2 separate regions of the Homo sapiens genome follow, and region 2 is linked to region 1. Evidence: fine-mapped expression QTL. A gene starts in region 1. The other region holds a variant in brackets. All regions are shown on one strand. Distances are between the middles of the regions.

Region 1 (11,253 bases):
AGCTGATTCCCAGTGTAGGGCTCCTATCGAACCTCAGGATGAGGACCCTCAAACCAATCTCATCATCAACTCCATAGGAAAACAGCCCACTCCAGGAGCTCAGGGAAATGAGGGATAGGTAAGAGTTTATTCTATATTCTTCTCAATGGCTTGGGGAGGGTGATGTGGACACAGCAGTTATAGAGAATAATTAGGATGTCTCTAGGTCTCTAGAGGATGAAAGGTTGTGTATTAAGGCAGCAATTCTCAAATTGTTTGTCTCAGGAACTCTTTATACTCTAAAGCAGGGGTCCCAAACCCCCAGGCGTTGGACTGGTACTGGTCTGTAGCTTGTTAGGAACTGAGCCACGCAGCAGAAGGTTGAGTAGCAAGCAAGCGAGCATGACCTCCTGAGCTCTGCCTCCTGTCAGATCAGCAGCAGCATTAGATTCTCAGAGGAGCTCAAACCCTATTGTGAACTGCGCCTGCAAGGGATCGATCTGGGTTGCGTGTTTCTTCTGAGAACCTAATGCTTGATGATCTCAGGTGGAACAGTTCCATCCTGAAACCATTCCCCCACCACTGCCCCCATGGAAAAATTGTCTTCCATGAAACTGGTCCCTGGTGCCAAAAGGGTTGTGGACCACTGCTCTGAAGTATCAAACATCCCAAAAGAGCTTATTTGTTTATTTGTGTTATATCTACTTAATACCTATTTTTAACTTATTTAAATTGACAGAAATAATATATATCATATACAATGTTTTGAAACATTCATTATGAAATGGCTAAATTGAGCTAATTAACATTAACACTTGCATTTCCTCACTTTTTTGTGTGGCGAGAACACTTAAAATCTCTTAGCAATTTTCAAGATACGATATATTGTTATCAACCACAGTCACCATGTCGTACAACAGATCTTTTGAAATATTTAATTTCTATTTACTATATCAATTTATTTGATTTATAGTTATGATATTAGAAATTCAAACTCAGAAAATCTGAAAACATTTAACTCACTGAAAAATAATAATGTCCATAATACCTATTACATGTTAACATAATGCTTTATGAAAACAACAATAATTTCCAAAACAAAAACAGGGGAAAAAAAGTGGCATTGCGCTACATTTTGGCAACTTGCTTTCATGTCTGGCTTAGTAGAAGGCAACTGGATTCTCATATCTGCTTCTGCGTTCAATCTGTGAAATCACACATAGAAAACTCCTATATGGTCATAGGAGCATGAGAGTGGAAAAGACGATTTCTTTTTTTTTTTTTTTTTTGAGACGGAGTCTCGCACTGTTGCCCAGGCTGGAGTGCAGTGGTGTGATCTCGTCTCATTGCAAGCTCCGCCTCCCGAGTTCACGCCATTCTCCTGCCTCAGCCTCCTGAGTAGCTGGGACTACAGGCGCCCGCCACCACACCCGGCTAATTTTTTGTATTTTTAGTAGAGACGGGGTTTCACCGTGTTAGCCAGGATGGTCTCGATCTGCTGACCTTGTGATCCGCCCGCCTTGGCCTCCCAAAGTGCTGGGATTACAGGCAGGAGCCACCGCGCCTGGCACGATTTCTTAATATTACTATGAAACTAGTGTTGACCTCTGAAATCCACACTTTGAAAACAATCGAATTAAAGAGGTATTACAAACTCTTCTCTTAGTTTTGCTGATGACAGAATCTAAACAAGAGACTCCTAGTCAGCACCTCATGGCTCTGAGGGTATGCATGATACATGCAGATGCATAAGGCTGCCATGGCTGGTTTCAGTATGCAAGGGGAGTGATAGGTGCAAAGAAGTGGAAGAGTTGAATGGAAAAACTGGATGATACATAAGAGAGCAAGGGGAAGTTTGTTCCTGGAGTAAGGTTATTTTACTGTTCGCCAGCATGTGCGTTCCCTCTCTGAGAGAGGACTAAGCTGCTCTTCCCTTTGAAATTAGATACAGCCATGTGACTTGCTTAAAGCAGAGTGATGTGTGACACTTCCAGGAAGAAGCTGTAAGAGCCAGTTTGCTGTTTGCCACACTCTTTTTCCCTCTTGGTAACCACCAATGTTCTATGTGGATATTCGCTGCCCTATCAGGCCGGGACCCAGAGTGAGGGCAACACTGACCAGAAACAAAGTTCACAGCTAACTCTTGGATATAGTTTGGATGTTTGTCCTCTACAGATCTCATGTTGAAATTTGATCCCCAGTGTTGGAGGGTGGTGCCTGGTGGGAGGTGTTTGGGCTAAGGGAACAAATCCCTCAGGAATAGGTTGGTGTTATCCCCTAGGTGACAAGTGAGTTTTTACTGCATTAGCTTATGCAAGAGCTCGTTGTTTAATGTGACTTCCCTCCTCTCCCCATGTCATGCCTGCTTCCCTCTGCCTTCTACCATAATTGGAAGCTTCCTGAAGCCCTCACCAGAAACAGACGCTGGTACCATGCTTCTTATACACCCACAGAACCATAAGCCAAATGAACCTATTTTCTTTATAAATTACCTAGTCTCCATTATTCCTTTACAGCAATGTAAAGCAGACAAATACACCTTTCCTGGACATGTAGCCCAAATGAGAGAATAAACACTTGTGATTTTCAGCCTTTGAGATATTAGAGTTATTTGTTACAACAGTACAATCTAGCCCAGGCTGACTGACACAGCTGTCTTAGTCTGTTTTGTACTTCTATAGAAGGAATACCTGGGGCTGGGCAATTGATAAGAGGTTTATTTATCTCATTACAAGAAGCATGACATTAGCATCTGCTCAGCCTCTGGTGAAAGCTTTTGTGCTATGTCAAGATATGGTGGAGAAGATCAAAGGGGAAGCTAGCATCAGTACAAAAGGGCCAAACTGGACAAGTGTCCTGGCTTTATAACAACACACTTTCATGGGAACTAATCCCTTCCCCTGGGAACTTGCTCACTAGCATGAGAACAGCACCAAGCCATTCATGAGGGATCTACCCCCATGACCCACACCTTCCACCACTGCCACACTGGGGATCAAATTTCAACATGAGATTTGGTGGAGACAGAAAAACCATATCCAAATCATAACAGCCATCTTACAGGCAAATCAAGGATATGGAATCTGCCATTTAATGTACTTATTGTGAGCCTATTGTGCATTAAATACCATGCTAGGTGGTATGATTACAGATGATTTAGATTTGGCAACAGCCCTCAGAGGGTTTATAGTGCAGAAGGCATATAAATAAACAATGTCACTCTGTTGTAATTGCCACTATTAACAAAGGGTACTATGGAAGGGAGGAGTCCACGAATCCTGTATCAGGGAACCAGCAAGAAACGGCATACTCAGCTAAAAGTTTTGAAGGGATATTTTAATGAAGTTTTAATAAAAAAGTAACTGCTGCTCTTTACCATTAAGAGAGACTATTTTGGAGGTGTGGGCAAGGTTAAGGTGGGCGGGCTGAGGGGGGCAACAGGAATGCTGAGGCATCCAAGGACAATCAGCAGAAGAAAGCCAATCCCACCCCAGTCTGAAGTGAAGAAACAAATGTGAGAAATAGTGTTACTGGACTAAGTGGGAGGTGGAATCATGGCGGAGAGGCCAGATGACACCAACTACAGCTGTAGCCAGAGCAAAACAGGGGAGATCAGGAAGAATAGATAATCCAGCTTTTCTCTCCTCCTGCTCTCTGATCTCCTGCCATGCTCCCTATTGGCAAGATCCACCTGGAAACCAGAGGTCAGGGCACCTGGATGATGCCATCAATGCAGTTGGTAGAAGTCAATCTCCTGGTCCTCAGAGCAGGGTGGAGAAGGATCTGGAGGGGCAAATAAAGACTATCCTGAACAAGGTCCTCAAAAGAGAAATGATAGGAATAATTGATACAATATTTTTTGAAACTTTATTGCTTCATTAAAATGCTTAAAATTGCAAGGAGAGTCCACAGTTACTGATAGAATGGGGATAGGTTTGAATGAATATTCAGATGACTGGACACTTGAGGTTCCTATTAGAAGAGACAATGGACATATGGCTGGAAATCACATCCTGGATCTTTTTTTGAGGGGGAGTTGGGAGATGAAAGTCAAGTGCGGAGAAAATGGGTAGGGAATAAGGAGAAACATATCTTCCTGTCAGCTGGAGAACAGATCACTAGAGATAAATTGTAAGGTGGGAATTGCATCATATTTTTCTGACCTAGTCTCAAAAGCCATGCAGTATCACTTTCACACTGTTACAAACAAGTTACAAACTGACCCAGATGCAAAGGAAGGAAAGTTAATTCCACCCCTTCTGGAGAAAGCAAAATTCTATCATAGGGCTGAATAATACAGTAGCCAGTAGCCACACATGGCTGTTTACACTTCAATTAATGACAATTTAATAAAATTAGAAATTCAATTCTCAGTCACACTAGCCACATTTCATGTGTTCAATAGCTATGTCAGGACATGGAATATCTCCATTATTGCAGAAGTTTCTATTGGACAACACAGCTCTAGAACATACGAGACAGGAAATATTGTTGCAGCCATCTTGCAAATACAGTCTGCCACCAGGACCTAGGCAAACCAAATTGTATTAGAGAAGATAGTGCAGTGGCTCACAAGACATTGTGTACAAGGGTTGGCAATAACTGCTGCTGTTTATCACTAAGAGAGTACTTGGGTTAAAGTCTCAAAGAGAGGATGTATATGCCTAGGGGGCTAAAACTAGGGCCAATAGGAGGGTATCACAAAAGAGAGATTTCTAGGACAGTATGTTCCATGAGGCTCTTTGAGCATGTGACAAAAAGCCACCATTCCCCAGGAAAAAAAAATACAGTATTATGCATTCAAGTTCAGGGGTCTACAGAACCCTCCAAATCAATCCATGGACTTGTCACATCAGAGCCCTACTGCAGGCTGTGAGCCCTTGAAAGTATTTCCTTATTCCCAGCCATTAGCAGAGGATTCGGCCCTGATGACACTTAATCACCATATGTTGACAGAAAGGGGCACTTTTTTGCTGAATACAAGTAAGAACTTTAATAGGTGGGGAAACATTTAAGTGGACCAGACAACATCAGGAAGCCAGAAAGTTTCCCAGCACTACAGGAGTCCAAGTAGATGTATGATAATATGGAGAGGATTTCAGCCTTCAAACAGAACTGAGTAAGCCTTAGGTCTTGCCTTGGAGACCCAAGTTCTATAAAAGATGACAGTAAAGCCCAAGTGAAGGGATGATCACATACAACTTGTATGAAGAGGGTGGAATCTAGAGAGGCTCCAAGGAGCTGGTGACATTCTTGGATCAAGTTCATATGTCAGATGGCTTCTTCCCTGAGGTTGAGTCCTCTCTAGAAGGCTCTTCAAGCCTCATACATACAAAAAAAAAAAAAGTTTTTATCCTTCTCTCCCCCATACCCAGTTTTCCTGATAAATCCAGACATATCTAAACTTAGCAGTGGACAGAGCTTGAACAGTCCTCAGTTGGTCTTCAGGCCCCTTGCAAACAGACCTCTGGCATACTTGTCTCATCAGTTTCAAACACACCCCAGATACACTTTCATCCCCTACAATATATTTTCTGAATTTTGAGTATCATTGTGAGAAATTCACATTGAATCTAAGGCTAAAATCATCTCAGCTTTTCTGACAGTCCCACTGCACTTGTAAAAGTCAGTTATATTCAGTTATTTTTTCCTCTCCCACTATTCGGTCAATTCTTCAAGATCAGGAGCTATATTCCCACTTCCTAAGCATGCACTTGGCAGCTGTATGTTCCAGCCGGTGTTTTATTCTTGCAATTCCACAGGGACAGGGTTTTGGATACAACAGGCTGGTTTGAGCATAATTATTCTTAGTACATAAGCTCATTATTGTGTGTGTTATCCAAAATCTTAAAGGACTACAGCACTCTGCTTTTTATAGAGAGGAAGAGGCACACCCCACCATTCCTAACACATACTGAATCTTGACTGAATGACTGTAGAAAGCAGATTGCCCTGGGTTTGAAACCCACTATCAGCTGTGTGACTTCGAGAAAATTACCTGGTCTCTCTAAGCCTCAATGTCCTCAGTTGCAAAAAGGACATTCTATTCATACCAGGATTGTTTTAAATAACATTTAGCATGGTGCTTGGTGTATAAGAAGCATTTCAAAAATGTTGTCCACTCATTCTGTGACTTCTCATATACTCTTGCCTTCTCCACGAAAAAAAAAAAAAAAAAAAAGATTGTTAATATCCTTTTGGGGCACAACTGGAGAAGTGTATCTTGAAAGACCTAACTGACCGTTTTACAACCACAATCTGCACTATGGTGCACTGAGTGATGTGAGTCATGCAAGTGTAGGCTAAATCTTTTTATTTAGAATGTTGATATTTCACGGACTTCTGAAAATTTATTACGATTTTTTGAAATATTACATTAAAAAATTACTTACTTTGATAACCGCAGTTTACCTGGCACCCTCTTAAATTTTGCATCCAAGGCAGTGCCTCATTCGTTTGGCCCTTGTCCTGTCCTGCCTACTGTCACACCACGACCTAAATCTGAGACTAGAGCAGCCAGAAAAACTGGAAGGAAAAGAACCCCGTTCCTTACCTGAGTTTACCCTTCTGCCCTAGAGCGCTACCCCGGCCCAGGAAAGTGGGCACAGGGAGCGTACTACAGCTCCCACAAGGCCACGCGGGACTGCGTCCTCGCCTATTGGCTGCGCGGGTCCCGCCCTCCCCCTGCCCCTCCCCGCCCTTGCTGGGATGACCCCGGGGGCGAGTGCCCGGCCAGTGTGCTCCCGAAGCGGGCTGCGGTTCCGCTCGTATCAGGCTTCATGGCGGCGCGGCCACTGTCCCGGATGCTGCGGCGGCTTCTGAGGTCCAGCGCCCGGAGCTGCAGCTCAGGGGCTCCGGTGACCCAGCCCTGCCCCGGGGAGTCCGCGCGAGCTGCCTCGGAGGTGAGCCCACCCCGCCTGCGTCCACAGCTTCCCGGGGCAGGAGTGGCCCCGGCACACTGCCCTTTTCCCCCAGTAGCTCCCGGCCTATCTGCTTGACCGCTTCTGGGAGGGACCCGTTGGCACTCCTCAGTGGAGCGATGTTCTCCAGATGGACCGCCCGGTCTCACCCGCTAGCCCAGCGGGAGAGGTTCCTGGGAGTCCCGCTTCAGAACCTCCCTGCCCCCCAGCCACGCCACCCCTTCTAGCCCTGAGCTTGGCCAGAAATTCGGGTAAGCAGAGGACTGGGACTTTGGGTCCAGTGAGGTGTCTTAGTACCTTTCAGCCTTGCCTTGCACCCACCCTCTTTCTTAAACATTTTCCCTCCCTATCCCAAGAGCTGAGAGATCAGGTGTCCCTGTGACACCTGCTTCATAGTGCGACTGACTAAACATGTCACCTCGGTGTCACCAACGATGAGTTGTTACTGTAGTCCCAGGGCTCTGTAACCCATCCTTTGCTGACTCTCCTTGTCTTTTTTATTAACCTTGGGAGGGTTCAGCCTTATCCTAGAGCAGAACAGGGCAGGACGTGGCTTCTTCCAGGTGAGAAATTAATTCCTCTGTCTTTAGGGTTTTGGGTAAGATCCCTCAGTCCTTGCCAGCACCCCTCAGAGTGTTTCAAGTCATTAAAAGTTTTAGGTTTTGGTTGTTCTTCTGCTCAGGTGGTTAGGGAATAATTTGGGGGGAAAAGTACCTCTTTTCATTTAGTGAAACCTCTTTTCGGTACCTATCTAGGCGTTTTTTTCCCCGTCTCCCAGAACTAGGCTTCCTGTCCTGGGATTCATAAGATCACTGCTCCCTCCTCCCCTATATTGCTCAATGACTTCCGCCAAATTTGCTTTCCCCAAATCTAAGCCCCTCTGGGATCCTCAGATAAGCAGGCCCATGGTTGGGAAGTGAAGACTTTTTAGTATCCTCAAACTCTGAACATCATTGAGGAAGAGATAGGAAAGCAAAGATGGCTGAGAGATCTTTAAAGAATTCAAGAAAAGGGACTTTTCTTCTCCAGCCCCCCACCCCCTAGTTTATTTTGTACTGGTCTTTCATGAGAGAACCTGTGTTGAGTGACTCACATGTGGAAGCATTTAGTCCTCACTAAGCCATGTGAGGTGAGTAGAGTTTGTATGTTCAGATGAGGGGGCTAATCTAAGTTAACTTTCCTCCAGTCGCAGAGCTGTAGAGGGCAGGAACTCAACTCTAATGCTTTTCCGTCCTCCCTGTGTGGAGGCCAGGGAGAGAGCCTGCTCCTATCCATCCCTTTACACTGTGAAGGGAGGGGTAATGTGGCAGAAAGGAGAACATAGACTCTGGGGCAGCCCCATCCCTTATTAGGGATTCACCAAGTCCCCTTACCTCTCAGTGTCTGTTTTCTCATCTGCAAAGTAAGAATAAAAGTGTCTACTTCATAGGATGTCACAGGGATTAAAAGAGTTAACGTATGTTAACGTATATACTTAGAACAAAGCTTAGCCCATGTAAGTGCTGTGTTATGTAAATGTTGGTGGTAATTACTATTATCCATGCTGCCACTGGCACATGCTCTGTCCTGTGAGTCCCCTCCCATCTGGACTTGTTGGATAGCTATTCTGTCAACTCACATTGAATCCTGGACATCTCATTAGGATTATCTTCAGCAGACTGGGAGTTCCTGAGGGCTGGGTGCACCTCCGCCTTTCTATCCCCACAAGCGCTTAACGCAGGGTTGTGCAGGCAGTGGATTCAGCCAATAATTGTAGCTGCTTGAAACTTAACTAGTGAGGAGTCACGTGGCATAGTAGACCACACTGGACAGGGAGTCCCATGTTTTCACCCGCCAGTTTCGCCTCCAATTTCACCTGGCTCCTGGGGCTGTCACTTCCCTTTGCTTCATGTTTATAAAATGAGAGGACTGGGCCAGCCCATCATAAGATGGGGGAGGGCACAGAAACTTGTCTTGAGGAGACTCTAAGGGGAGGTGAGTCTGGAAATGGATATGTTCTGCTCATCTCCAGAGCTTGCCAGTTGGGGTGGGGACACCTTGAACCCCTTCTTGCAGGGTCTGTCTCCCCCAACACGCCCACACAGGGCTCTGGTAGTCTGGTTTGGGATGGGAGGTGCTTGGAGAGCTAGGATGGAAAGCCACTGGGCATTGTTTGTGTGGCAGGATGAGGGTGTGAGGGAGAGAAGTGAGGTTAAGTGGGAGCTGGCTGTGAGGATTGCGGAAAGGGGGCTGTGGGCTGAGTCCAAGAACAGGTCGAGTAGCTTCTAGCTATGGAAAGGAGTAGTGTGTGGGTCAATGGGGAGGTGGGTGGGGGAGACACAGCAACCTGCCAGCCTGCATCTGGGGTGGCCCAGACAATCTTTGTAGGGTTCAGCCTAGCCTGGGAGTGCTGTATCCCTCTTTCTCCCTCTGAGGCTCCATGCAGGCTTTGTTGGGCAACAATGAAGCCTGCTGCCTGTGGCGGGGGAAGCAGGGAGGGTGAGTCTAGGCAAGGCAAAGGCACCCATCTGTTCAGGGGGCCAGAAAAAACAAATGCTGGCTAGGGGTTAGGCTGCAAGGAAGTGGGTGTGGGTGAAGGTAGAAGGAGTACAGCAGGCACTGGTGAGGGAGAATGAGGGGGAGGAGGGAAAGAGGGCTTTCAGGAGGTCATCTTGACTTCCAATCTGCCCAGCTCCTCAAAATCCATGTTTCAGCGAAATGTGACTGTCCTCCTCAGAAGCTATAGGTGTAAAGACCTCACACTTAGGGTGGGAATGAGGGGAGGGGGAAGGAGAATCGAGCTAGGCTAGGCTCTTTGTTGGGTCCTCTCATTTAAAAGAGATTAATTTTAAGAGACCCTTAGTATACATCATCCCAATAGCAGGGTAAATCAGGGCCACGATACTTAGATTTGGAATGTGCTTTTTTTCCTCTCGAATAACCCTGCTGCTCTGTTTAGACTTTGGAGCTATTTGAGGGCTAGCCTTTAGCAGTCAAATCAGATGCCTAAGATGAGTGACTAGTAGAGGAGGGCACCTTGAGGGCAGGGTCCCGCTTTAACTCTTTTGTCCCACCCTTCCCCACCCCCTTCACCCTAATCTGCATTGGGTAGACATGAGATGACCAGTAGTGTCTGGCAGGCTGCTTAGTGCCTGCTGATGCACACCAGTATTGGTGGTCCTGGGGATGCTCAGACCCCACTTGGGTGGTGTGGCAGCAGCTTTGAAACCCTGCCTCTGGCCATCTGCTGTTAGTAGGGTTGGAAGGCCAGGGTCTTGGAAGGGAAGGGAAGCTGACAAACTAGAAAAACTGATCACAGCACACAACAGTGTTCCTCCATGGATCACTGAATGAAAACCTCGGTGCCAGGAACTCCTCCAACTGAGTTAGGTTGGATTATTATTTCCACTGCATAGATGAGGAAACTAAGGTTTCGAGAATTTAGGTGACTTGCTCAACAGCTAGAGCCAGGCTTGTAATATAGGCTCACCTACTCCAAATCCTGTGCTCAGAACCACAACAACTTGCCCTGGATTAAAATAGCACCTGGCACTTGGTGTCACTAGGCCGATGGTTCTCAGCCCTGGCTGCACAGCTGAGGCACTAGATTGAGCTAGAATCTTTGGGACAGATTCTAGCTCCTTCTTGAAACTAGAATCCTTCTTGAAGCTCCTTGAGTGATTTTGATGGGCTGCCAGGGTTTCAAACCACTATACCAGGTTAAACCATTTTGACAGTAGAGACCAGCCGGGAAATGATTACCCCCATGTAACTGGCTTTTGCATATACGACCTTTCTGCTTACATTAGGGACAGGACTATTTGTTCATGTGATTCAAAATGTACCAACATCCTGTGCTAGACACTGGGGATACTGAATCAGGCAGAATGACTTCTCACGGAGAGGAAACAGCCCAGGCCAGCCTGGGACCCTGGGAATATGATCCGTTGAGTGCTTCCTACTACTTCTGGCATGTCCCAGCCCTCCTGAGCAAGCAGGGTTGCTGTCTACTCTGTCCTATAATTCCCTCTGAATCTTGGGCTCCTTTGACTGGTGCTGATATTTTTTTCCTCCAGGAGACTTAAGGGACAGGGAAAAAAGTAGAAGAATGAAAGTAGGGCATGCAGTGTTAGAGGAGAGAAGATGCAGGAATGGGGCTCGTTAATATCTGAGTAATGAGTTTGCATTGCTGGCAGGGTGAGAGTGTGTGTGTTTAGGAGGCTGGGTTCAGAACGGGTGGTGCAGTCTGCATAAGTCTAGACAAGGTCACAGAAGTTCTTAAAAGTGAAATCTGACCAGCCTCTCCCATTGCCAGAACAAAAGCACCAAATTCCATTTTTTTTTTTTTTTTTTTTTTTGAGAGAATCTCGCTCTG
Region 2 (11,253 bases), 27 kb before region 1:
GGGTGAAAGTGGAATTGCTACATCATATGGTAATTATATCTTCAATTTTTTGAGGACCCACCCTACTGGCTTTCACAGTAGTAGTACCATTTATATTCCCACCAACAGCGCGTAAAGATCCCAATTTCTCCACATCCTCACCAACGCTGTTATTTTTTGTTTTTTGTTTTTTTTTGACAGTAGCCATCCTAATGGGTGTAAGGTATTATCTCATTGTGGTTTTAATTTTCATTTCCCTAATGTTTAGTGATGCCGATCATCTCTTTAGGTGCTTACTGGCCATTTGTATATCTTCTTTGGAGAAATGTCTATTCAAATCTTTTGCCTATTTTTAAAAATCTGGTTGTTTTTCATTGATTTTTATGATGACTATCTTAAACTATTTGTCAGATCATTCTAACATCTCTGTCATATTGATATGAGCATTTATTACCTCTTTTCACTCAGTTTGAGATCTTGGTGGTTGGTATGATGAGTGATTTGTGATTGAACCCTGGAAATTTGGGGTATTATGTCATGAGAGTCTGATCTTACATAAATTTTCTGTTCTAACTGGCTTCCTCTGACACTGCACTGATAGGGGAAGGGGGGTTCCACTGCCAGGTGGGGCTGGAAGTCCAGGTTTCCCACTTGGCCTTTATTAACACCTGAGAGAGAGAACTCCTTGTTACTGCTGGGCAGGGGTGCAAGTTCCAGCCCCCATCTAGGCCTCCCTGGTTGAGGGGAGGGGTAGGAGTGTCTCATGAGTGTTCTCCAAATAGCCTCCACTGACACCATAGGGGTAGAGGGTAGCCTCATTATGGCTGGCTGGTGGCGAAAGGCCCAGCCCTCTCCACAGGCTTCCTGACACCCACCCTCCAGCAGGAGGGGAGAGATGTCTTATTACTGCCAAGGGGCCATGGAAATCGAGGCTCCCATGTGGGTGCAGTGTGCCTGGTACTGCCAGGAAGGATGAATATTCTCACTTGGCCTTCTTTGATACCAGTTTTTGGAGGACAGGAGATTTTGGTGCTTCCTTACAGTCTGGCCAAGTCTCCCCACTTGGCCTCTGCTGGCCTGGGGACGACCAAAACTCTGCTTTAGCCAATGGAATGTGGGTAAATTTGATAGGAGCAGGAGACTTGAATATGTTAGCGCAGTTTTGTTTAATCTTTTTTTTTTTTTTTTGAGATGGAGTCTTGCTGTCACCCAGGCTGATGTGCAGTGGCACAATCCAGGTTCAGTGCAACCTCCGCCTCCCAGGTTCAAGTGATTCTACTGTCTCAGCCTCCCAGGTAGCTGGGATTACAGGCACGTGCCACTATGCCCAACTGTTTTTGTATTTTTTTAGTAGAGATGGGGTTTTGCCATTTTGACCAGGCTGGTCTCAAACTCCTGACCTCAGGTGTTCCGATGCCTGCATCTGCCCCCCAGAGTGCTGGGATTACAGGTGTGAGCCACCGAACCCGGCCTAGTTTAATCTGTTGCTTGCCTGCCATTCACTAAGGGAAGAACGTGCTCCAGGTTTAAGGACCTGAACACAACCTGCAACTTGGAGGCTGAAGCCCAGATTTTAGCCTATCCCAGCTGACTCATACACCCTGCAGTAAGAAATCAATGCTTGTTGTTTAAATGCTGAGTTTTGGTGGTCCTGAGGCCAGCAGAGGCCAAGTGGGAAGCCTTGGCCTTGATAGTGAAGCCCTTTTTCAGGGGGGCAGGGAACTATATCTGCCCAGTAACTTTACAGTATCTTTCCATTGTACGTAGAGGATGTGGATGTATAATCCTATTGTAGGAGAGTAAAAAAAAACTGAGTCCAATGCAAGATATTACAATTAATTGCTGATCTTATCTTTATTGTCCTCCATTTAGTTACTTTGGACCCTGTTCTTTTTCTAATTTCTTGAGTTAGATGATTAACTCATAAATTTTCAGACTTCTTTGAGTATATGAGGCTGTAAATTTCTGTAAAGGTAGCTTTAGCTGTACCGCATGAGTTTTGATACATAGATTTTCATTATTATTCAGTTGAAATGTTTCTTTATATCTCTTACAATATTGTCTTTGACCCAAAAACTACATGTTTGAAAATTTCCAAATGTATTTTTATGTTTTTGTTACTGCTTTCTAAGTTAATTATACTGTGGTCAGATAATACAATCTGTATGATATTGATTCTTTCAGTATTTGTAAGGTTGGTTTTATGTCTTAATATGTGGCTAATTTTCATAAATGTTCCATGTGTAAGAGTATATATATTTTTAATTTGTGATATAGGGTTTATTACATGTTCATTATATAATAGTCATTATGTTAACATCTGCTAAACATTTATTAATTTTTTATTTATTTGATCTGTCAATACTAGATTGTTTTGGAGTTACCTGGAGTTGACCTTTTCCTTGCACTTCTCTTTGTTTTCTATGTTCTTAGGCTGTTTCTATGTTTCCTTGTACTTCTTTTTGCTTTCTATGTTTTTAGGCTGTTTTAGGTACATAATATTTAGAAATGTCACATCTTCCTTAGGAATTGAAATTTTACAACCATGGAGAAGCTCTCCTTAAAGCAAAAAAGCATTTCTAGAGGTATTTTGAGATACCTACACCAGCTTTTTAGTTAATATTTGCCTGATATTATCTTTTTTCCATTCTTCTATGTGTGACCTTTGTGTTCTTTCATGTTTGAAGTATCTCTTAATGATGGCATAGAGCTAATCTTAAAAATATAATCCAGTTGGACAATCTGACCTTTCAAATGACTTAGCCCCTTTATATAATGATTATTGAATACTTTTATATTTCTAGAATCTTTCTGGTGCTGCCAAAAGATATACATTTTCCCCATGTTGCAATATCTTTGAAATTAAAGTGTTTCTTACAATTCATGTTGTAGTTAGCAGCTTTTTTTAACTTAGTAGCATGTAAAATTTAAGTACATTTTACAACTGATGTCATCCTAGATTTCTTAGATTCTAAGAAATACAATATTTACTCAGATTTTCTTAACTTTCTCTTCCCCTTCCACCCCTTTTATCTTTATTGACTTAAGGTTTTTCATTTCCTTTTTTCCCTTATACCTGGAATTTTCACATCCTGTCTGTATCGTTTTAGTGATTACTCTTAAAATTGTAGCAAGCATGCTTTAGTTAAATTCTAAAGGTAATCGGTGTCTTATTCAGATTCTTCTAGAAGCTGCCCTTGAGACAAGAACTTGAGTACAGGCATTTGGAAGTAAAATCAGGAAGCACAAGTGAATGAATGGGACAGTGAGATGGGGAAGAGAGAGAAGCCAATACGGGAAGCCCTCATGGGCAGGTAACTGTTGTGGATAACATGCTCAAACCCTCTGAATAAGCAAATGGAATGTGTCTGACAATTTTCCCGCCAGGGGATAAGGAGGTCAGGACATTTATCTGACTCCTCTATTGGTTGAACGTTATCCATGGGTGTTAACTTCCCTAAACTTCCAGGTTACAGGTGCTTAAGGCAGAGCACGTTTCTGTGGTTCAGGAGAAGGACATTGGGCATGGGAGAGAGACATGTGCTTCAGCAGGAGCTGTCAGCCTGTTGAAAACTGTCTACCACAGTTGCAAATGAACTTGGGTGGGCAGAAAGGATACTGGGGAAACCGGTATCAACAGTGCCTGCTACGATTAGTATATTTCTAATCTCCTCCTGCCGATTGCCAAAACCTTGAACTTTTCATTTCAATTACCAATTCTACTTCATATATTAATCAGTACATATTTTATTTCCACTATTTTGTATACCTCCTAAAACAATGATTATTTGTATTATTTCAAACAATGGTCATTTAGTTTTACCCATATGTTAATCAGTTTCCTTGCTCACCTTTCCTTCTTGAGAATCTCACTTCTTTTTTTGGGGGGTTTAATTTTTCTTCCTTTAGTTATGTTTTCCTCACCATCTGAACTTTCTGGTTCCTAGGTTTGGATAATGAATTTGGATACTGAGACTGTAAAGTATATCATGTTATGCAAGTCTATTTCGTTCCTGCATTTTAGATAGCAAATAGCAAGTGTTTTCATAGAGTGGAATTTATGTAGTTTAACTTTTTTTTTTCCAGAAACAGTCTGTTAGGGAATTTAGTCTTTGTCTTTGTGAAAATGACTTTTTTCTCAGTCCTGAATGATAGTTTGACTAGGCATAAAATTGTAGGTTCATTCTTACCTTCTCTCAGCACTTAAAAGATACAAGGTGACCTCAAAATTTCATGGAAACTGGAATTAAAAGATAAAAATAAAGCATTTTATTTCTCAACATAAACTCTATCAGTTCAAGACACTTTTGAAAGCAATGATACCAGCCATTTAGTCCATCCATAAAGAACTGAGGGTCTTGGGAATTTAACACATCAGTGCAACCTTTTTTACATTATTAGGTGAAGAAAAATGGGTGCCCTTTAAAGATTTTATAAGATGAGGAAACAAATAGTAATCAGAAGGAGCCAAATCAGAACTGTAAGGTGGATGCCTAATTTTCCATCAAATCTCATGAAATTGCCCTTGTTTAAGAGGAATAAGCAGGAGCATTGTCGTAGTGAAAGACTCTCTAGCAGTCTTCCTGAGTATTTTTCTCATAAAGCTTGGCTTTCTCAAAACACTCATAATAAACAGATGATATCATTCTTCAGCCCTCCAGAAAGTAAACAAGAAAAATGCCTTGAGCATTCCAAGAAACTTTTGCCACGATCTTTGCTCTTCACTGGTCTGCTTTTGCTTTGACTAGGCCACTTCCACCTCTTGGTAGCCATTGCTTCTGATTCCATTTCAATGTGTCTAATGTATACCTACTTTTATTTATACCATTCAGGGGTGTTGTGACCATAGAGCTAGGTAAAGAAAAGAGAGAAGCAGAGTCTACCAATACCAGACTCTTGGTAGCCACGAAAAATACGTAGTTTAGTCAAGTAGTGATGACATTAGGGAACAAAATCAGCTGAAATTTGGTTGGAGATTGTAGAATTCAGATGATTCAAATCAAGTAATAAAACTGAAAGATTACAAAAAGTATTGTGTGATGGTGTATAACTGAAACAGTAGGTACCAACCCTACCTGAAAGGTCCTTAACAATCTAGAGATTATTAAAACTGGACTCAGTACATCCATCTGTGATGCATGAAGCCACACTTGACACAGGCA[C/G]TTCCAAGTCTGGTATCCCTGTGCCAAATGTCTCTATGTCTCTGTCCAGTTGCAAATCCAACTTGCCTTGGGTGATAATCACATCATGAATTGTCTCAGTAACCTAAAATAACACTGAACTTTAGTGGGTTAAGTGTCTTTTAACCCCAGGAATATAGAAATTATGAAGTGCATCAAACCCATGACATTAGTTTATGTTACAGTCAAGATAATCTGAGTGGTGGGTATATAAAATGCTGGTAAAATATAATTGAATGTGGCATATTAAAGTAAATGACAAATTGACCTGTCATTCCAAATTAAATGTGCATTGGATTTGAGGTTGGATGGTATAAGAGGAAGTGACTTAACTTATAAAGAGTGTTAGGATAGTTAAAAGAACTGTAGCTGCTTAATAATGAGGGAAGGATTCGTTTGTTAGGTCATGAGTTTGTTGAGTTTAGACTTCTAATTTCTTAAAGAAAATGGAATATATTAAATTTATAAATGTTAAAGTGCTTACAGAAAACTAGTCTGTTCAATTCAGGTTTACTTAACATTAATCAAAATCAAACTCCCTTAAGTAATCAGTCCAATTTAATAAGGCTCCCTGAAAATAATTATTTTATATAAAACTTACTGGGTTTAAAACAGTATAATACAATTTATAAGATAAATTTAGAGGTTTAGGGAAAACTGTTTACATTTACAATTTTAGTAAACAAAACTTTATTTTTAGTTATTTGGGTTTGATTTTTAATCTATGTGCACAAAACCTGCCCTTGGACTTAAAAAAATTCTCACATAGAAACTGAATCTAAGGATTCATATTCTTTACCGATGTAGTCTCTTGCTGATTCTCTCTAATCTCACCTTCTGAAATTTGTACTGAATATAAATTGAACCTTTTCACTCTATCTCTCATGCCTCTCATTTTTTAATGTTTCCTTACCCAAAATGTAGCACAGAGAAATCACTTCTTTTCCAGTTCCCAATTCTATCTTCATCTGGATCTGATTAATCTTTCCACTGGGAATTTTTCCTTAATTTCAATGGCTCTATTCTCATTTCACATCAGACACAAACCTTGTGTACTTTCTCAGAGCCAAACTGCCTCCCTTGTTCTCAAAATTCCTCCTATTTGCGATAACTCCCTGGAGTAAACAGGCGCACTGCCGCCTCTACTCGGCTTCCCAGACTGGCTGGGGGCCTGAGATTGAACGGACCTCACATCTCACATGCCATGCCTGTCTGCAACAAGTCATTCCTCCACTTATGGACATAGGATCTGGCTTTCTGAGTGACATCAAAGGATGAATAATGCAATAATTATGAGTTAGGTCTCCATGGTGTGAAATTTGAGCAATGGGAAATGAGAAACAGGAAGGAGCTGGGCAGAGAAATTCCCCCTTCTTTTCTCCCTTCTAATCAGAGGTGGTGCTTCTTTTTTAAAACTTTCCAGAAAGGTACTGTGTGCTAAGCAAATATACCTTCTATGTGACTAGCTGTGTTTCTTCATGGCTTCTCAAGAACCAGTGGCTAGTGCAGTAATGCCTCATATTACATTGCTTCACATCTTTCTTTGCCCCACTTCCCCCTTTTCTCCCTCACTTTCATGTCACTGGGCTTGTAATTTCTAAATAAAATATCTCCATCTTCATCCTTGTCTCAAGCTCTGCTTTCTAGAGAACTTAAACTAAGAGAGTCTTTAACACTTTTATTTGATTTTGATAATTTAGCCTTCTCTTATATTTAAAAAAAACTATTAATGTAACTTCCAGCCAGAGAGAGTAAAAGATGCTTAATGATATTGATTCCCTGTGGAATACTATGCAGTCATAAAAAAGAACAAGGTCATGTTCTTTGCAGAGACATGGATGGAGCTGCAGGCCATTATTCTTAGCAAACTAACACAGGAACAGAAAACCAAACGCTGCATGTTCTCACAAGTGGGAGCTAAATGATAAGAACACATGGACACATAGAGGGAAACAACACACACTGGGGCCTATCAGAGGGTGGAGTGTGGGAGGAGAGAGGGGATCAGGAAAAAATAATAGGTACTAGGCTTCATACCTGGGTGAAATAATCTGTGCAAAAAAACCCCATGACACAAGTTTACCTGTGTAACAAATCTGCCCATGTACCACTTAACTTAAAATTTTAAAAAATGCTTACAATTACTATCTTTTAAATTTGAGACTATAATCCCACTTTTAATACTGACAACTCTCACTCATGGTGAATTCTTTTCTTATGTGTTTTGTGATTGTGGATTGTGAGTTCACCTTTAGCAGGGCTGTATTGAAGGGAACTCTGAGAAACCTTAGATAAGGTTTTGTCCCTCCAGAGAGGACTTACATTCTCTTTGTTACAGATATTACCAGCTTGGGAGTTCTCAGCCACATAAGAGATCTAAATGTGAAACTCTGCCTTCAGGGAGAGCAGGTGTCTGGGGGAATCCTATCCCTTTATTCAAATACAAGTAAAAACAGACAAGCTTCCTTGATATCCCTCTTTGCTGAAGGGTTGATCTTGTTTTTAGTTGCTGCCCTTCTTCTGAAAATATAGTAGTAGTTCTTTGATAGTTTTCGGCTTCATGTGCAAAGCCTCCATCATGGTCTCTGAGGTAGACAAACCTAAGGACAGCTACAATGTGAACTGAAGAATACTTCTGGTTTTCAATTCTCTATTCATTTTTGCTCCAGGATTTATGTTATTATAAGCTCAGCTATGCATTTAGAAGATTATTTTCTGTATTTAATCATACTTTCATGGTATTTTATAATGAAAAGGTTTTTGGATTATCTAATCTGCTACAATGCTACAGCATTTCTGTAATACTAGAAATGTAAGATGGGGTCTATCTTTAACAATCAAAATGGACTGAGTTATTACTATTTCTCAAGTATGACTATTACCATATTAAATGAATTAACTCATCTTCTCAACTCTGTGAGGTGTAGGTACTACTGTCTCCACTGTGTTAATCTGGGTCCTCCAAGACAAAGGTGACAAGACCAGAATAAATGTGCAAGTATGTTCAGGGAAATGCCTTTGAAAAAGAAATGGGAGAAAGAGGGTAAAGGCTGGGAGAATCATGTCATAACCCAAGATTGACTCTGAGTGAAGGAGAAAGGGAGAAAAGGCTGGGTAGAAATGTCTTAGACTACACAGCAGTTTCGGAAATGTTCAGCAAAGCCTTTGGAGAGTCTTTGAGCCACAGTTGGTTAAGAAAGGAGTCCCGTGTCTTTCGGGAATAGATGTACCTTAGTACCCCTGCCATTTTCAGTCATTAGTGGGGAGCAGCCCGGAAGAGATGTGACCCTGGCACACATGCTATGATGGATTCCAAACTGTAGCAACTGGGACCCTTGGCTAGTTATGTGCTCTGCACTAGAAGGTCTGCCAGGTGCATTTTCATGCCACCACACCCACTCTGTGCATGAGTAAACAAACACAAAGAGGTTGACCAGCATGCTCAAGAACACACAGCTGGCACGTAGTGGAAACAGGATTCCAACTTGGGTACTTTGACTCTGGGACACAACTTCTTAACAACTATGTCATGCTTTTTTGTTGTTAAATAAGATTTTATTGCATTGAAAATTCACATTCTTTGTACAGAAAGAATATTAAGTTAAACAATTGTGCATATTGTTTGTATTCTTCCAGGGTGAAAGTTATAAATTAATTGGATTCATGGGCCTGTACAAGAGGGAAAAACACACTTAAAAAGGCCTTAAGTGCTTTTTTCTTCTTTCCGGCTTTCAAGATGTTGAAGCGAGGACGTGGTGGGTCCTCTGGTGTGAAATTCCAGATTTCCTTGGGTCTTCTGGTAGGAGTGTGATCAGTTGTGCTGACAACACAGGAGCCAAAAACCTGTATGTCATCTCCGTGAAAGGGGATCAAGGGATGGCTGAACAGACTTCCCACTGCTGGTGTGGGTGACACGGTGATGGCCACAGTCAAGAAAGGCAAACCAGAGCTCAGAAAAAAGGTACATCCAGCAGTGGTTATTCGACAACGAAAGTCATACCGCAGAAAAGATGGCGTGTTTCTTTATTTTGAAGATAATGCAGGGGTCACAGTGAACAATAAAGGCGAGATGAAAGGTTCTGCCATTACAGGACCAGTAGCAAAGGAGTGTGCAGACTTGTGGCCCTGGATTGCGTCCAGTGCTGGCAGCATTGCATGATTCTCCAGTATATTTGTAAAAAATAAAAAAAAAAAAACTTTAAGCCCATTAAAAAGTCTTAAGGTGGGGCACTTCAAAGGCAGGGGCCTATGGATTTGCCAGTGACCTTTAAAATGTGACTGTGTTGCTGAGAGTTCAATGATTATTGATGTATATTCCCTTTCTCCTCAGTCTACTTAACTACACATTAATATTGTTTCTTCCCTTGTAGGCTCTCTTTATCTTTACCTCTGTGACACAGACATCTAACTGCCTATCCAGTATCCAATATTCCTTCATAACTACAATTCCCAGTCCCCCAAAAAGCCAACAACAATAATATACCACCTACCTATCCCCACCTCTCTTATTCAGGATGGCCATCTGACTAACTTCTAACCATGAGTAAAAAATGGTGGGCAGAGCTTTCAGGAAACCCTAAAAGGGTCTGGCTCAACTGACCTGTGCCTGGTGTCATCAGGGTCCCAGCAAAGAAACGGATGTCACACTGAACTTAGTAAAACTTAGGATGGTTTTATATATGGGACTACTGACAAATGTGGGCAGAACATATGAAAATCATGAAGAACAGCATAGGAACACAATATTAGAGTCAGCTGAGCTATTATCTCTAAACCTGAACAGGTAAGAAGACAGGTACAGCAGACTACCTTGAGAAGGGTGACCTTCAAGTCAAGAGATACAGCCAGCAAGAGATGACTCTTTCGGAAGGGAGTTTGGGGGAGTACGGGGAGATATACTTCTTAGGTGCAAAGTTCTACAAATTATTAAAAATGTATGAAGTTGTGTGTCTATCACTGAAATGAAGAGATAGAGTATTTTTTAAGTTTTCTCATGCCCTTTATAGTCAATCCCATACCATACTACCAGCCCCTGGCAACCACTGATCTGTTTTCCATCTCTACTATTTTGCCTTTTCTATAACGTCATGCTGCATTTTGAATCTGGCTTCTTTCACTTAGCATAATACCTCTGCATTTATGACTAGTTCATTCCTTCTTATTGTTGAGTAGTATTCCATTGTGCCAATATACCATAACTTGTTTATCCATTCATAGTAGAACAATATTTGGATTGTTTCCAGTTTTGGGCAATTATGAATAAAGCTGTAAATATTTAGGTACAGTAGTCCCCCTTTTTTCATGGGGGATACATTCCAAGATTCCCAGTGGATGCCCAAAACTGCAGATAGTACCAAATCCTATGCCATATACTATTGTTTTTTGATCTGATAACTACTATGTGACTAATGAGGAGGTAGCACAGACAGTGTGAATACACTGTACAAGGCGATGATTCACATCCCAGGCAGGACTGAGCAGGAGAGCAAGATATTTCACCAAGCTGATCTCAACTGCATGAAACTTAAAACTTATGAATTATTTCTGGAATTTTCTATCTATTTTCAGACTCTGGTTAACCGTACGTAACTGAAACCACGGGAAACAAGACCATGGATAAGAAGAGACTCCTGTATAGGTTTTTGTGTGAATGCAGTTTCATTTCTCATGGGTATACACTTAGCAATAGGATTACTGGGTCATACGGTAAATGTAGATTTAGCGTTTTAAGAAACTGCTGAACTGTTCTCCAGTGTGTCTATACCATTTTACATTCCCACCAGTAATGAATGAAACTTCCAGTTACTCTGCAACATCACCAGCACTTAGTATGATCAGCTTTTAAAAATTGTCATTGTACTAGTTTGTGGTGGTATCTTATTGTGGCTTTAATTTGCATTTTCCCGTTGGCAAATTATGTTGGGCATCTTTCTGTGAGCTTATTTGCTACCCGTGTCTTTGAAATAGCTGTTCAAGTCATTCATAATTGGATTGTTTGTGTTTCTATTACTTAGTTATGAGAGTTCTTTATATATTCTGGGTATTCCTGATCAGGTATATGTTTTGCAAATATTCTCTCAATCTTTTTTTTATT

Evidence for each region.
Region 2: its variant is fine-mapped to the expression of MOCS1 in lung (TOPMed, PIP above 0.99).

What each region holds. Positions count from the first base shown.
Region 1 is chr6:39,929,923-39,941,175 of GRCh38, reverse strand. It overlaps MOCS1 (molybdenum cofactor synthesis 1), which reads left to right and starts at 6,714. Exons shown (of 11, transcript NM_001358530.2): 1 at 6,714-6,881. The coding sequence starts at 6,759. It overlaps LOC102723789 (a long non-coding RNA gene), which reads right to left and starts at 6,607. Exons shown (of 6, transcript XR_001744112.1): 1 at 6,533-6,607.
Region 2 is chr6:39,956,476-39,967,728 of GRCh38, reverse strand. It overlaps LOC102723789 (a long non-coding RNA gene), which reads right to left. Exons shown (of 6, transcript XR_001744112.1): 4 at 4,170-4,219. It also overlaps the pseudogene RPL23P6. Among named protein-coding and RNA genes, the nearest start is that of MOCS1, 28 kb to the right of the region's middle. The variant C/G (reference allele first, on the strand shown) is at 5,142.